Linked DNA regions of Homo sapiens. The protein of the gene in region 1 purifies or fractionates together with the protein of each later gene. This does not show direct contact. Each region holds a gene or a part of one and is shown on either strand. Other genes may lie near its edges.

The links. The genes of interacting proteins can lie anywhere in the genome.
Region 2: the proteins of TRIOBP (region 1) and RAI14 purify together in Homo sapiens (affinity purification with mass spectrometry; 2 studies listed by BioGRID and IntAct, with this or other methods). This does not show direct contact.

The regions. Positions count from the first base shown.
Region 1 is NC_000022.11:37,720,966-37,728,499, reverse strand, and holds part of TRIOBP (TRIO and F-actin-binding protein), read right to left. Parts: intron 5,316-7,534; coding exon 1,997-5,315; intron 1-1,996.
Region 2 is NC_000005.10:34,650,990-34,659,501, reverse strand, and holds the start of RAI14 (ankycorbin), read right to left. Parts: upstream 3,175-8,512; 5' UTR 3,027-3,174; intron 3,012-3,026; exon of another isoform or gene 2,806-3,011; intron 2,249-2,805; exon of another isoform or gene 430-2,248; intron 1-429. UniProt on the Homo sapiens protein: Plays a role in actin regulation at the ectoplasmic specialization, a type of cell junction specific to testis. Important for establishment of sperm polarity and normal spermatid adhesion.

The sequences.
Region 1 (7,534 bases):
GATCAAGCTTACTGGAAAAGGAAATTTGAAGAACAAGAGATAAAGTTTCTTTTTTTTCTTTTTTTGAGATGGAGTTTCACTCTTGTTGCCCAGGCTGGAGTGCAATGACGCAATCTCAGCTCACTGCAAACTCCACCTCCCAAATTCAGGCAATACTGCTGCCTCAGCCTCCTGAGTAGCTGGGACTACAGGCGTGTGCCACTATGCCCGGCTAATTTTTTTTTTTTTTTTTTTTTTTGAGACGGAGTCTCACTCTGTCACCCAGGCTGGAGTGTAGTGGCATGATCTTGGCTCACTGCAAGCTCCAGTGCTGGGATTACAGGAGGGAGCCACTGCACCCAGCCAAGACTGATAAGGTTTCTCATGCAGATTCAAATCCAGGAGAAAACTTTCCCAAGGAGCAGCAAAGAGGAATTTTAGATACAAAATATTCCATACCCTTTAGGGTGATGAAAATGTTCTAAAGTTAGATTGTGGCAATGGTTGGACAACTTGGTAAATAAACTAAAAATTCGTTGAATTATATACATGGAAAGTTTTGAGACTTCCAGACTGCTTTTTGTTGCTGTTGTTCTCTTGACCCTAACTAATGGAATTCTAGCTCTGATTCTTGAAAACTCGAGGGCTGGAACTTCTGGGGAGAGAAACCTCAGCCTGATCAGGAGGAAATGCTCCCCTTCCAGGGGGCCAGTGCTGCTGACCAAGGAGACTCAAAAGACACCTGGACTTCAGGTGTCCCAGGATGTTTGACTGCTAAAAATCCATAATTCTGTGAGCTTTCTTTCTTAAAATAGGTAGCTCTGGCCATACATTTTTATTTTATTTTTATTTTTAGATGGAGTCTCACTCTGTCACCCAGGTTGGAGTGCAGTGGTACGATCTCGGCTCACTGCAAGCTCCGCCTCCCAGGTTCAAGCAATTCTCCTGCCTCAGCCTCCCGAGTTGCTGGGACTACAGGCGCCCGCCACCATGCCCAGCTAATTTTTTGTATTTTTAGTAGAGATGGGGTTTCACCGTGTTAGCCAGGCTGCTGTCGATCTCCTGACCTTGTGATCCGCCCGCCTCGGCCTCCCCAAGTGCTGGGATTACAGGCATGAGCCACCGTGCCCGGCCCTGGCCATACATTTTAAATTGACATAACTGTTTTCTGAAATGCATAGGGACCCATGAGTTTTCTTTGCCAAGGCAGGAAAAAATCATGGGTACTTTCTTCTTCTCCCTCATGCACGGAAGAAAAAAAAAAAAAACCCATGAGTCTGGATCAAAGGGTTTGAGAGTTCACTCTCATTTTGGCCGGGCACGGTGGCTCACTCCTGTAATCCTAGCACTTTGCGAGGCCGAGGCGGGTGGATCACTTGAGGTCAGGAGTTCGAGACCAGCCTGGCCAATATGGCGAAACCCCGTCTCTAGTAAAAATACAAAAAAATTAGCCGGGTGTGGTGGCACGTGCCTGTAATCCCAGCTACTCGGGAGGCTGAGGCAGGAGAATCGCTTGAACCCAGGAGGTGGAGGTTGCAGTGAGCCGAGATTGCACCATTGCGCTCCGGCCTGGGCAACAAGAGCAAAACTCCACCTCAAAAAAAAAAACAAAAAATAAAAAATAAAAAGACAGTTCACCCTTATTTGAATGAATGTGCTCATGTTCCCCTCCCTTACAGATGAGGAAACTGAGGCTCAGGTAGGTTAACTCACTATATCAGGTCATACGAGTTGACATGTGGCTTTGACCCAGGATTTGGACTCAGCCCTCCTGACTGCAGTCTTTGCTGTTAACCACTGGGCTGTGCATGACATCACTTAACCACACACACACACAAAACAGAAAACTCCCAATATGCAGAAACAGAGAAATGGAGCGATTTGCCCAAGGTCACACAGCCGGTAAATGGCAAGCCAGGGGGATTTGAACACTTTCTTTTGGCACCCTAACCCTTCACCTGTCCTGCTGCCGAGCCTCCTCCCCAGCCCACCTGGCTGACCCCACCCCCGGGCTCACCTGCGCTCTTGCCCGAAGAGGCGCTCCACCTCTGCACGGCCAGGGCTGTGGGTGCGGCCCCCGCTGCTGCACTGCGCCTGGGGCCCTGGCTGTCTCTGGGCCAGCCTCCTGGGTGGGGGCAGGTCGGCCAGCACAGTGTACTCCTCCCGCTCCAAGTTGTGCCTGGTCTCCCCGGGAGGCGCTGAGCCCCGGGAGCCCCCAGAGCTGCCCGGTGAAGGTGAGGGTGCCAGGAACGCTAGGTCACTGGGTGGGTGGCGGGGTGGGGAGGAGGCTCGGGGTGCATCCCGGTGCCCGATGCACACTTGGGGGATCAGCACTGGGGAGCCATGCAGAGAGTCAGTGGAGGGGGCCAGGCTCTCCATACTAGTTCCAGGGGGATCCTGGAAGAAGAGGGATGGCTCAGGAGCCTGGCGTGGTGGGGATGAGAAGGAGGGTGCATCCCGGTGCCCAATGCACACAGGGGTGGGGATGTGGGGGCACTCGTGCAGAGAGTCCATGGAAGGGACAAGGCTCTCTGTGCTGGCCCTGGGGAGGTCCTGGAATAAGAGGGAAGGCTCTGGGGCCTGGCGTGGTGGGGAGGAGGCCCGGGGTGCATCTCGGTACCCAATACACACAGGTGCAGGGAGCTGAAGGGGCTCGTGTTGGGGGGACTGACACTGATGCTCGGCATCTGATGTGTCTGGGAGGAAGGGGAAGGGGTCAAATTGGGTGTGGCGGGGGGGCGAGGACGCCCGGGGGGCATCTCGGTGTCCAATGCACACAGCAGGTGGTATATAGGGAGGCTCGTGGTGGGGCGGTTCACTCTCAGGGGCGCGGGGCTCTGGGAAGAAGGGGAAGGGGTCGTGCTGCAAATAGCGAGGGGGCGAAGAGGCTCGAGGGGCATCCCGGTGCCCAATGCACACAGCACATGGAGGCTGGGAGGGCTCAGGAGAGGTCAGGGGAGCCCCATAGGCAGCGGGGTACACAGGTGAGGAAGTTCGGGAGGTGCTCTGGTGGCCTGGGTTATGGGAGGAAGAGGTGGCCCGGGATGGCAAGTTGTACTGGGTGGGGCCAAAGGAGGACTGGGGTGGGTCATGCTGGGCTGGCCTGCTGGGAGAGGATGTCTGAGGCCTGTCACCTTGGGTTGGCCGGAGGGCGATGGATGCCCAGGGAACCTCGCTTTGCTTGGAGCGAGATGGGGAAGAGGTTCGGGGACCATCACTCTGAGTTGGCCGGAGGGGAAACGAGGCCCAGGGGATGTCTTTGTTAGTACGATGGGGAGATGAATTCCTGGGATTGTTCCATTGAGTGGAGCGGTGGGGAGATGATGGTCTCAGATTCTCCTTTTGGGTGCAGCATTGAGATGAGGAGGTTCCAGGGTTGTCTCGTTGAAAGGAAAAGGACTGTGTGCGGTCCCGCTGTGTACAAGTGGGTCTGAGGTTATCTCGTTTGGTACAAGAGGTTTTAGGGTTGTCTTGTTGGGTAGAAGATGATCTGGGGATGTTCTGTTGAATACAAGTTCTGGGGTTGTCCTGTTGGGTGGCTCTGATGGGAGAGGAGGCTCTGAGATTGTCCCGCTGGGCACAGGATGTTCTGGGGTTGTCTCGTGTGGCTCTATTGGGAGAGGAGGTCCTGGGATTGTCCTGTCGGGTACAGGATGTTCTGAGGTTCTCTTGTTGGATGGTTCTGTTAGGAGAGGAGGCTCTGGGATTGTCCCGCTGGGCACAGGATGTTCTGGGGTTGTCTCGCTGGATGGTTCTGTTGCGAGAGGAGGCTCTGGGATTGTCCCGTCGGGCACAGGATGTTCTGGGGTTCTCTTGTTGGGTGGTTCTGTTAGGAGAGGAGGCTCTGGGATCGTCCCGTTGGGCACAGGATGTTCTGGGGTTCTCTTGTTGGATGGTTCTGCTGGGAGAGGAGGCTCTGGGATTGTCCCGTAGGGCACAGGATGTTCTGGGGTTCTCTTGTTGGATGGTTCTGTTAGGAGAGGAGGCTCTGGGATCGTCCCGTCGGGCACAGGATGTTCTGGGGCTGTCTTGTTGGGTGGTTCTGTTGGGAGAGGAGGCTCTGGGATTGTCCCGCTGGGCACAGGATGTTCTGGGGTTATCTCGTGTGGCTCTATTGGGAGAGGAGGTTCTGGAGGCTCTGGGATTGTCCCGCTGGGCACAGGATGTTGTGGGGTTGTCTCGTGTAGCTCTATTGGGAGAGGAGGCTCTGGGATTGTCCCGCTGGGCACAGGATGTTCTGGGGTTGTCTCGTGTGGCTCTATTGGGAGAGGAGGTTCTGGAGGCTCTGGGATTGTCCCGCTGGGCACAGGATGTTGTGGGGTTGTCTCGTGCAGCTCTATTGGGAGAGGAGGCTCTGGGATTGTCCCGCTGGGCGCAGGATGTTCTGGGGTTGTCTCGTGTGGCTCTATTGGGAGAGGAGGTTCTGGAGGCTCTGGGATTGTCCCGCTGGGCACAGGATGTTGTGGGGTTGTCTCGTGTAGCTCTACTGGGAGAGGAGGCTCTGGGATTGTCCCGCTGGGCACAGGATGTTCTGGGGTTGTCTCGTGTGGCTCTATTGGGAGAGGAGGTTCTGGAGGCTCTGGGATTGTCCCGCTGGGCACAGGATGTTGTGGGGTTGTCTCGTGTAGCTCTACTGGGAGAGGAGGCTCTGGGATTGTCCCGCTGGGCGCAGGATGTTCTGGGGTTGTCTCGTGTGGCTCTATTGGGAGAGGAGGTTCTGGAGGCTTTGGGATTGTCCCGCTGGGCACAGGATGTTCTGGAATTCTCTCGTTGAGTGGTTCTGTTGGGAGAGGAGGCTCTGGGATCGTCCTGCTGGACACAGGGTGTCCTGGGGTTTTCCCGCTGGGGAGTACAAGTAGGAAAAGAAGTTTGGGGGTTGTCCTGCTGGGTAGAAGAGGTTCTGGGGTTATCCAGTTGGGTGCTTCGTGAGGGAGAGGAAGCTCTGGGGGTGTTCCACTGTGTAGATGAGGCCCTGGGGGTGTCCTCTTGGGTGGATGAGGCCCTAGGGGTGTCCTCTTGGGTGGATGAGGCCCTGGAGGTTTCCTGTTGGGTGGATGAGGCCCTGGAGATTTCCTGTTGGGTGGATGAGGCCCTGGAGGTGTCCCTTTGGGTGATTCGATGGGGAGAGGAGGCTCTGGGGATTTCACGTGTAGAGGCAGCCTGAGCAGTGTCCCTTTGGGCAGGAGAAGCCTGAGACGTGGTGCTTCGAGGTCCACTGTGTGGTGTCATGGAGGAAGCCTGGGTCAGTGTTGACCGGTGCCGCTCCAGGGACAACCCGCTTTCTCCCCGGAGCCTTGCCCAGTGCTGTCCTGCGCTCCGGCCCCCACCGCCGGTGTCTGGAGAGAGAAGAGAGGGGCTCAAGGTAAGGGGAGAGGTCCAGGCAGCTCTCATATTCTACCTTTCTTTGTCCCTTAGGACCAGTGATTAGGGCAAACCCCACACCCTCCTCCTACAGGTCTCACTGTCTGTACCAAGTGACTCCACCTCTCTGACCAAGGCTGATTAGACAAGGGCTTGGATGCCTCTCTCAAGCTGAGGTCAAGAATTTGAAATTGAGACCCTGACTCACTCAAGAGATGGGTTCAAGAACTGGAAGGCCACAGGGTCTGGGGATCCACGGACAAGACAGAGAAGAAGCAAATTTGTGGAGAGAAGTGTTGACAATGGCCTGTGTGACCCCAGGGAGGGAGAGGTGGGCCCAACAGCAGCCACCTGACAGTCTTCCCTTCCCAGTTCTATTTCCTTCAATCAGAATCCAAGGAATTCCCCCCATTTCTTGTTTTGTTTTGTTTTTGAGTCAGAGTCTCGCTCTGTCGCCCAGGCTGGAGTGCAGTGGCGTGATCTCGGCTCATGGCAACCTCCGCCTCCCAGGTTCAAGCCATTCTCCTGCCTCAGCCTCCCGAGTAGCTGGGATTACAGGCATGCGCCACCATGCCCAGCTAATTTTTGTATTTTTAGTAGAGACGGGGTTTCACCATGTTGGCCAGGCTGGTCTCGAACTCCTGACCTCAGGTGATCCGCTCACCTCGGCCTCCCAAAGTGCTGGGATTACAGGCGTGAGCCACCATGCCCGACCTTTTTTTTTTTTTTTTTGAGACAGAGTCTCGTTCTGTCACCCAGGCTAGAGTGCAATGACGCGATCTCGGCTCACCGCAACCTAAGCCTCCTGGGTTCAAATGATTCTCCTGCCTCAGCCTCCCAAGTAGTTGGGATTACAGGCATGCACCACTATGCCCAGCTCATTTTTGTGTTTTTAGTAGAGACAGGTTCTAATGAGCCTGTTTCCTGTGCGACAGCTCTAGAAAGCCCCTGTTTTTTTGTATCCAAATGTTCCTACCCTGAGGCTTCTCCTAGGGCTGCCATGAGGATAGGAAAGGTGCAGGGATGGACAACCTTTTATAAACTGGTAGCTGGGAGTTTGCCAGAAATGCAGAATCTCAGGTCCCAGCCCAGATGCACTGCTTCTGGATCTGCATTTAACAAAACTGTCTGGTGATTTGTACACCTTATAGTTTCAGAAGCACTGGCCTAAAGGATTAATGTAACTGTCCTCAGTAGTGACCCTCTTTGCAACTCCTAGCCTCATGACAGAGTTGCCATGACCTTGGTGTGTCACCCTCCACCCCGCTCAATCCCTCGGTCACCAAGCAGGTGTTGAGCACCCCTATGTACATGTCCCTTGGCTACTGCTTTAGGTGAAGAGTAAAGGGTATCATGGCCTCATCTTAAAGGAGCCACAACTATGGGTGTGGTGGCTTACACCTGTAATCCCAGCACTTTGAGAGGCCAAGGTGGGAGGATCACTCGAGCTCAGGAGTTCCAGACCAGCCTAGGCAACATGGCGAGACCCTGTCTCTACTACAAGTTTTTTAAAACTTAGCAGGGCCTGGTGGTACGTGCCTGTAGTCCCAGCTACCTAGGAGGCTGAGGCCGGAGGAGTGCCTGAGCCCAGGAGGTGGAGGTTGCAGTGAGCCAAGAATGTGCCATTGCCCTCCAGCATGGGCAACAGAGCAAGACATTGTCTTAAAACAAAAAACGAAACAAAAAAGTAGCCACAGTTGCCTTCATGCAGATCCCCTCCCTTCACGCCTTCTTAAGATCCCCTGTCCTCTCCCTTTGCAGCCACTGCCTCGTCCAGCCTCTCTGGGCTGGTGTTGGTGAAAGTCTGAGTTCCCAGCACCTAGCAGGGAATTCAAAATTTGCAAGGTTGCCAGGCACGGTGGCTCACGCCTGTAATGCTAACACTTTGGGAGGCCAAGGCGGGTGGATCATCTGAGGTCAGGAGTTCGAGACCAGCCTGGCCAACATGGTGAAACCAGTCTCTACTAAAAATACAAAAATTAGCTGGATGCAGCCGGGAGCAGTGGCTGATGCCTGTAATCCCAGCACTTTGGGAGGCCGAGGCGGGCGGATCACAAGGTCAGGAGATCGATACCAGCCCTGCTAACACGGTGAAACCCCATCTCTACTAAAAATACAAAAAAAAAAAAAAAAAATTAGCCGGATGCAGTAGTGCATGCCTGTAATCCCAGCTACTCGGGAGGCAGAGGCTGGA
Region 2 (8,512 bases), on another chromosome or scaffold:
GAGGCTGAGAGTTCAAGGCCAGCCTGAGCAACATAGTAAGACCCTGTCTCTACAAAAATGAAAAAAATTAGCCAGGCATGGTGGCATGTGCCTGTGGTCCCAGCCACTTTGGAGGATGAGGCAGGAGGACTGCTTGAGCCCAGGAGATTGAGGCTGTAGTGAGCAGTGATCACGATACTGCACTCCAGCCTGGGTGACAGAGCGAGACCGCAGCTCAAACAAAAAACAGTGAAAAACCAGAAACCCTAACTTACTCTTGGCAAGGGAGTAAATATACTATACTTTTTTCATACACTGGGATTCTCTGTAACAGCTAAAGTGAATAAAGATCTATTAACACATGTATCTCAAAAACATAGTAAGTTAAAAATGCAAGCTATACATAGGTAGAATTATGCCATTTATGTAAAATGTTAAACACAAACTCACATGTATTTTTTTGTGGATACAGTGTAGTTCCAAACATGCTTGAGAACTGTGTGCGCTAACTTCACATTAGAGGTTACCTGAGGATGGAGGCAAAGGAGTAGGAATAGATCAAATATTTAAGTTATAGTTTATTTTTCCGGGGGGGGAGAGGTATGGATCAAATATGAAAATATTAGCAACTATTAAACCTAGGAAGTAGAAGACAAAATGGCTTACTATACTCTGTTTTTATGTATGTTAGAAATATTTCATACTTATTTATTTATTTATTTATTTGAGACAGAGTCTTGCTCTGTCGCCAGGTTGGAGTGCAGTGGCGCAATCCCAGCTCACTGCAACCTCCACCTCCCGGGTTCAAGCGATTCTCCTGCCTCAGCCTCTCAAGTAGCTGGGATTACAAGTGCGTGCCACCACGCCCAGCTAATTTTTATTTTTTGTATTTTTAGTAGAGACGGGGTTTCACTGTGTTGGCCAGGATGGTCTCGATCTCCTGACCTCATGATCCGCCTGCCTCGGCCTCCCAAAGTGCTGGGATTACAGGCATAAGCACCATGCCTGGCCCTTATTTTTATTTTTAAAGGATGAAAAAAAAGGAAAGAAGGAAGGGAGGGAGGGGGTGGAGGAAGGAGAGGCAAAAGTTGTCCACTGCATTCTATTAATTCCAAGGCCCAGTTGTTCTTAACCTCCAAATCTGCTTCTTCACTTTTAAAGCCTAGGTGATAGTACGTGTACCTGCCTAGAACATGCTTTGAAAACTAGCAGACTGGAGAGAGAATTTCACTGTCAGGTTCACTACTGGTGGGCGGGACACTACATCATTCCCCTACGGAATCCCTAGGGGGCTCAGCATCCTTTCTGTCTCTTCAATTCAGATAACAGTAATAAGATTTTCCAGCAGGGTTATAATCACACCACCACCACCACCATCTCCAAAAAGCCATAAAACAATAAATTCATTACTGAAGCATCTCAGTGAATGGAGATGAAAACTGTGCAACAGCCCAGCACGGGATAGCTCTCCCAATCTCTGTTAGACAAGCACTGGCTAAAATATAAGAACTGGATCAATCTCCTCACATAAAATCAACTGTCTTACAAACCCAAGGGGGAAAAAAATCACACTTGTTAGGCATCATTAAGAAAAGATTATCAGATTATATACATCAGTAATAAAATTCCGAGCCACAGGGCGAACAGGGACCTGCAGGCTGGGGACAGAGCAGCCAAAATCCAGCCTCCCTGTGATTCCCGACCTCTTCTCCAACTCTGTGCAAAGCCCGAGGAGGTGAGACTCTCTTCGCTAAGGCGAGCTTCGGCTATGTCCTAGTGATGGACAGTTCCTCTCTGCCAGGCCCCTGCAGCCTTGAGACCACATTCCCCAGAGATCCGGCAACGTTTCCCCATCCCAGGCAGCTGGGCATTCTCCTCTCCCGGAAGGAAGACGGAATCCCACCCCGATCATGCGTGAGCTGCGGCGAAGAGAAGCCGCTGGTCCCGAGGCGAGGGGCCTCGAGTCCGCAGATTCCCCTCAACATTTCTGGGAGTAAAGTTGGGCTTAGCTGGGCTCCTGGCAAATAAAGAGGAGCCTGGAAAGACAGCCATGCTCAGGCCCCCGTGAGGCCACTTCGGACCCCTCCACGCTGTGCTGGGCTGCATCTGCCTTAATTCCCCGTCTGTTGCTTCTCCAGGCTCTGAGCCCCCTCCACAAAAGGGGGATGCGAAACTCAAAGGAGTTAGGATGTCAACCCTGCAAACCGCAGAAACTAAACCGACACCAACCTGCCCAAGAAGGCAGCGAAGGTGGTTGAGGACGACACCCCACCCCCCACCCCCCACCAGGCAGGGGTCGCGGGAGATGGCGGGCGCCTTTCTGGTGGCTCCACGTCCTCCTTACTCCCGAAGTCCCGGCGGCCCCGAGTCTGCCCCAACTCCAGCATCCGTTCTCCCCGAGCTGCGGCGGGGAAAACAAGGTAGGGGGCAGGGGCAGGCCCAGAGGGGTCTCGCCCCCGCCCTTGGGCCGGCCGAGGGGCTCCCTGGAGTCAGAGGAGGAACAATAGCGGACCCCGCGTCCTGGGAGCCACCCGGAGTCTCCCGCTCGCACCTCCCTCCCCACCTCCTCCAAGTTCAGCCGGGAGGCGGATTGGGCTCAGCAGCACCGACGCGGGGGCAGCGAGGCGCCGCGCGGGGCGAAACAGGTGGGACCCGGCGCAGACTCCAGGGTGCATCTCCGGGTCTGCTCATTCATTCCCACCCGCGCTCCCTCCGCCGCGGCCCCTGCCCCGCGCCCCGCCCCAGCCGGCCTGCGAGTCGCGGAGGACCCGGGAAGAACCCTTCTCCTAACTTGGCCGGGTCTTCCCGCTCTACCCTCATCTCCACCTTCCTCTCCTTCCTCTTGTCCCCAGATCTGCTCTCCGCAGACAGTGGGCTGCCGGCGGTGGACCAGGGAGAGGTGGCGGGACCCCGGCTGCAGCCCGCTCAGCCGCTCCGCCCGGGCGCCGTCCCCAGCGCCTCCCGCGCCCGAGCTCCAGACACAAAGGCGGGGACACGAGCCCGGGACCCCGCGCCGGGAGCCTCCCAACTCCGTGCCGCGCACTCACCCCATCGAGGCGGCGGCGGCGCTCCCCGGACCCAGCTGGCTGCTCCACCCCGCCCGCCGCTTCCCCAGGAAAACGCGGCCGCCGGGCTCGCTTCCTGCTCGGCTTCCTGCGCCGCAGTCCCTCCTCCTCCCCCGCTGCGGGGGTCAGTGGGCGCCGAGCTCCCGGGCTAGGCCGGCGGGGCGGGGGCAGCGGCAGCACCACCACGTGGCCGCCGGGCGCCGGCCCCCGCCGACCTGGATCCAGTGGGAGCGGGAAGGGAGGCGCTAACCATTCCCCTCCCATTCCACCCCTCGCGGCCCCAAATTCCGCGAGTCAGGTGACCCGGCCCCGGGCTCTGGCCGGGACCTGCGGGGGGTGCTCTCCGCCCTCCAGCCCCCGGCGCATCTCCCCGGCCCGCGCGTCCCGGCTGTTCGTGGCTTGCTTTTAGTCTCCAGGGATCGTGGGACCCTTCTCCGCGGATCTGTTTCATCCTCTTAACCTGAAGTTAGTGGAAGCCCCCCACGCTCTGACCCCTGGGTTTAGGACGGATGAGATCCCAGATACTGTTTATTTCTGATTAACTTCCAAAGTCGTTTGTGGTAGTGGCGAGTGTTTCAAAGTCACGGATCCAAGCCCCTTCTGACCAGAATCTAAAAGGTTGTTTTCCAAAATCATTGAACAGAAAGTAAAGTAGAATGTGCTCACGTTCTCCGGACTGAACCAATTGGTTGAAGTGACTGTTTTCTAGCACTCATTGGGTGGCAAGGCAAGACTACCACCGTTCAGTGTTGTTCTGCTCAGGAGTTAGAAAGGAGAAACCTACAGCCTGAACTGACAGGCGAGATTGCGCATGGGAACGCCTTCAAAATAGTGTGTGAGAAGCCACGGGGTACAGGCTCACTGCCCCAGGTCCCCGACAGCTTCTCTCCCTATCCCAGCCCACTAAGGCCCGACCTTTCAATTACGATGGACTCCACCATTAATTCCAAGGATTTCAAAGCTCTCTATCTACCCACTCATCTAATTTGGGCTGGCTTTTCCATGCATTCTAGTCATGCTAACCAGCTGTGACTTCAGTTCTGTTCACCTAAGCTCCTCCCTTCTCCTCGTTAGCTCTGCCTCCTTTGCTCAGGGAAGAAAGCTTTCTAGAATAAATAACGTATTGAGTTCTTTCTGGGATCTACTGTAAGTCAATTGAACTTAAGAGGGAAAAAAGGTCGATTCCAACAAAATTGAAATTCACCCTAACAGCTCAGTTTATAACGTGTCAGCTACATACTAATATTTATATGGCAGATATTACCTGTTCCCTCCCCCCGCCCCATCCCCCTTTCCTTCCTCCCTCTCCCTACTAGGGAAGAGCCTATCTCCCCTTTAACAGTTGAACTTGACAAACAAGCATCAAAAGCCTTGTAACTAGGTGCAGGGTCTTCACTTCCTACAGCAAAAGTTCCTTAGCCAAGTGAGGAACAGCTAAAGCAAGATGTACACTCCTCTTCCTGTCCTTTATCCCTCTCAAACAAAGTCACACTGTAAAAGAAACATGAACTGACCAACATTCTTTTGGTTTAATGCTGGCAATTTCTACAATAGTGTTTCATCGTGATTCTTGTTAATGACATATTGTAGGGTATTTAAGGGGAACATTACTGCCTGTGAGTTTTCTGCTCTATTTTTGCAGGTCAGTCTGGTTCAAGTAGGGGCAGCTGGGAGGATGGGATTTGGAGCATGGTACAGGTAGATGATGCTGTCTTGGAAATTTGACATGTGTGTATTCTGTAGGAACAGTTGACATTTTGAAGGAGTTAAAATATTAGACAACATTAAACAATGATTGTCTAAGGCAGGCACATCTGACTTTGATTCACAGAGGTCCTGTCCCTCTTCTTTTTTCTCTGTCCCAGCCACCTCCAAAGAGCCTACCAGCCTATCACCTCTTAGATTCCCATAGGTGGTTTGTATATGATTCTCCTTAGTTTACACTCCCACCCTCTAAAGTCAGCAAGTCTAACTCTGGATGAGGGATCGTTGTGAAAGTATTCTTATTTTTTTGGGCTGTGCCAAGATCCTTTTCCAGATCCCCACTTTTGAAACTCAAAGCAACTTTGTAGTCTGTAGACTGAGCATGGCAGCTAAGTTCTGCCAACTGCAGGGGGATTAGTGGGGAAGTAAGAGGTTCAATAGCATCTTCTTATTGGTTGTGTTGCCCAGGCGTTTTAGAAATGCTAATTGGGTTCATTGGATACATTGAATACCACCCTTTGATGAGAACTAGGCCCAGGTGAAAGGGGTTGAGTTAAAGAAGCAAAAATAAAATGACCAGCTAACCTGTGTAAAGTAGTAAAACCTTTTGGGAGGAGCAGTATGTTGCATTCCTTTATCCAAATATCAAGGTAACAGCAGTGTAATATGTAGTGCCATGAGCACCAAGAGCAAGGAGACTGGGTTTCCTGACCCATTTCTTTTGCTTACTTGCCATTTGACCTTCACCAAGGGTTTTAACTTCCCCTGTTCCCCCTTTCCTCATTAGTAGAAGGGAACATCAAAGTACATGACCTCCAAGATCTTTCTTTTCTTTTGTTTTCTTTTTTCTCTCTTTCCTTCTTTTCCTTTTTTTCCTTCCTTCCTTCCTTCCTTCCTTTCTCTCTCTCTCTCTGTCTTCTTTCTATCTTTGTCTCACTTTGGTGCCCAGGCAGGAGTGCAGTGGCACAATCATGGCTCACTGCAGCCTCAACCTCCAAGCTGAAGCTTTCCTCCCACCTCAGCCCCCAGGTCCCACCTCACTAGCTGGGACTACAGGTGTGGGCCACCACACCCGGTAATTTTTTTTTTTTTTTTTTTTTTGTACTTTTGGTAGAGACAGGGTTACGCCATGTTGCCCAGACTGGTCTCGAACTCCTGGGCTCAAGCGATCTGCCTGCCTCGGCCTCCCAAAGTGCTGGGATTACAGGCATGTGCCACCATACCCGATCTTTTTCAGTTCTGACATCCTAAACCTATTCTCTTAGTTTGTAGACCCTTCATAAGCAAAACTGCCCTGTCATTTCATGACGAAACATTGTTTTCTGATCACACTAGCAGGTCAGTCTTGTCAAAGCAATACAATTGTAAACTCCAAAGAGTGTTGCCATCCAGGACATCACAAATGAAATTCATTGATTGAGTGGGCTCAATTTTTATTCTTGAGATTAAATGATATCATCCCTTTTTCCTTGCTCATCCTTCATCAATACTGGTTCTTCTTAGATTATGAGTATCTTGATTGCCCAAGTCTGAGGAACCAAAGCTAAGACTTGTTGGGATAACAAGAAACTGCCCCTGCAGGAGGAAGGAGAGATAGATATCACACCACAGCCAAAAAGTCATTCTCCACTTTATTTGGTGTTTGGTCAGGAGCTGACTGTACTTCTGGGTCTAGTTAGAGGCAGCATGATTTAGAGGAATGTGGAGATATTGGACCCAGTCCAGAGAATAGAATAAAAATGCAATAACACAATCAGAAGGTTGGAGGGAGATAATCTACCAGAAAAAGTCCAAATATTCATAGAAAAAACACTTTTTGTATTTTCCTGGGGATGTTTCCAAATAGAAGAAAACTGTAACATGGGAAAATTAATAAAATAACCTTGGCATTCCTTTTCATAATTAGTAAGACCATAGTAATGAAGTAGCCTGCAAAACACTAATTGGCTCATGGTTTTTCCACTTGCCAGGGAGTCAGCAGAGATTTCTCCAAGGGTAAGAGGCTACTACAATATTCTTCTCAGTGAGGTTGGGCACCTGCCGAGGAAACGAGGCTAAGATCTTTGGCAATAAATACATTCCGAAGACCTGCATCAGTGCCCTGCTTGCAGAGTGTGGCAGAGAAGCTAAGCATCTCAAACTCGGCATTACAGACCTGAGAAGGCTGTAAGACTCTCTGGTCCATCATCACACGGGAGGAATATAAATCCTCAGAGCTGTGCTGGGCAGCATGTTAGCTGCTAGCCACACATGGCTGCTGGACACTTGAAATGTTGCTAGTCTGAATTGTGCTGTGCTGTAAATGCAATTCACACCAGATTTCAAAGAGTTAGTATTTTACAAAATGAAAAAAATGTCTCACTAATACTTTTTATATTAGGCATTGAAATAATTTTGGGATATATTGGGTTAAATCTCAACACTAATTTCACCTATTTCTTTTTTACCTTTAGAAATGTGGTTGCTGAAAATTTAAAAGTATACATGGCTTACATATTTCTATTGGTTAGTACTGCTGTAGGAGCTAATATTAGCAGCTAACACATATTTAGCAGCTATTCTATACTAAGTACTTTTCTATGCCATGTATATATTAACTATGATGACTGTCTACTTAATTGTCTAATCTGGGACAATTTTGAGAGTGAAAGAGGATGGGTAACTTCTAAGCCAGCCAGAACACTAGGACTAAAGGCAGAAACTGGAACTGTCCTAAGCAAACTGGGATGTCAGGTCGTCCTAATGTTAGGTCATTTAATCATGACATCAGCCCTGTAGGTATAATTATCCCTTTGGGGCACAAGAGGGAACTGGAGCACAGAGAGATTAAGTAACTTGCCCAAAGCCACTCAGCTAGTGAGTAGCAATGCTGGGATTTAAACGAGGGTAAGCTGACTCCAGAGGCATCATTCTTAACTGCTGTGCAACACTCTCTGCTAAGAGCTAACATAGGATTGAAATTTTAGTAGGTGGGAGATTTTTCTTAATCCTCACAGCAACTTGGATGTAGTATTACCCTGTTTTCACAGGTGCAGAAACTGAGTTTCAAGTAGATCCAGCAACTTGCCCAAGTCGTAAAACCAGAAAGAGTGGAGCCGAGAATCAAAGCTTGGATGCCTGACCAGAGTGGACCTTTGAAACACTCCTCTGTATATTGTCTTCAGGCTGCCTGTATTTACAAACTCTGATATTGACCTCATTACTTCTCCCCGTTCTGCAGGCAGAAGACTGCTATGAGAGCACTTAGGACCCAAGCGACATCAGCCTTGGAACAGGCAAATAAAAATGGAAAGCTAATCTTGGTGGCCTTCTCTTCTTCAAAAGGACATTTTTAAGATCCAAATAGCCATCAGTATGGCCAAGTTGGTTGTTCGGCTATGCATATCAGAAATTCCATAAAATATTCTCCAATTACGGTGCTGGAGGAGGGTATTATGAGGAGTTCATGAACATCAAGAAGGCAGTTAATGGGTTATCAGAAGACTAAGAGAAGTGGTTTCCACAAAGCACAGAGTCAGAAGCAATAATGTGGTGTTTGGAGCCACAAGTACACCAGGTGCAGCTTTTCTTGCTTCCTCTACAGTGGATCACAATCTTGGCAGCCCATTTAGAATCACCTGCTTTTAAAAGTCACCAACTGCCTTGGCCCCATACCCTAGGATACTTACTAAAGTGGTCTGGTGTGGGGCCCAAGCATTGGTATTTTACAGTCTTTCCCTAGATCATCATTAAATGGGGCCACTGCTTTATTGGTTGTCCCAGCC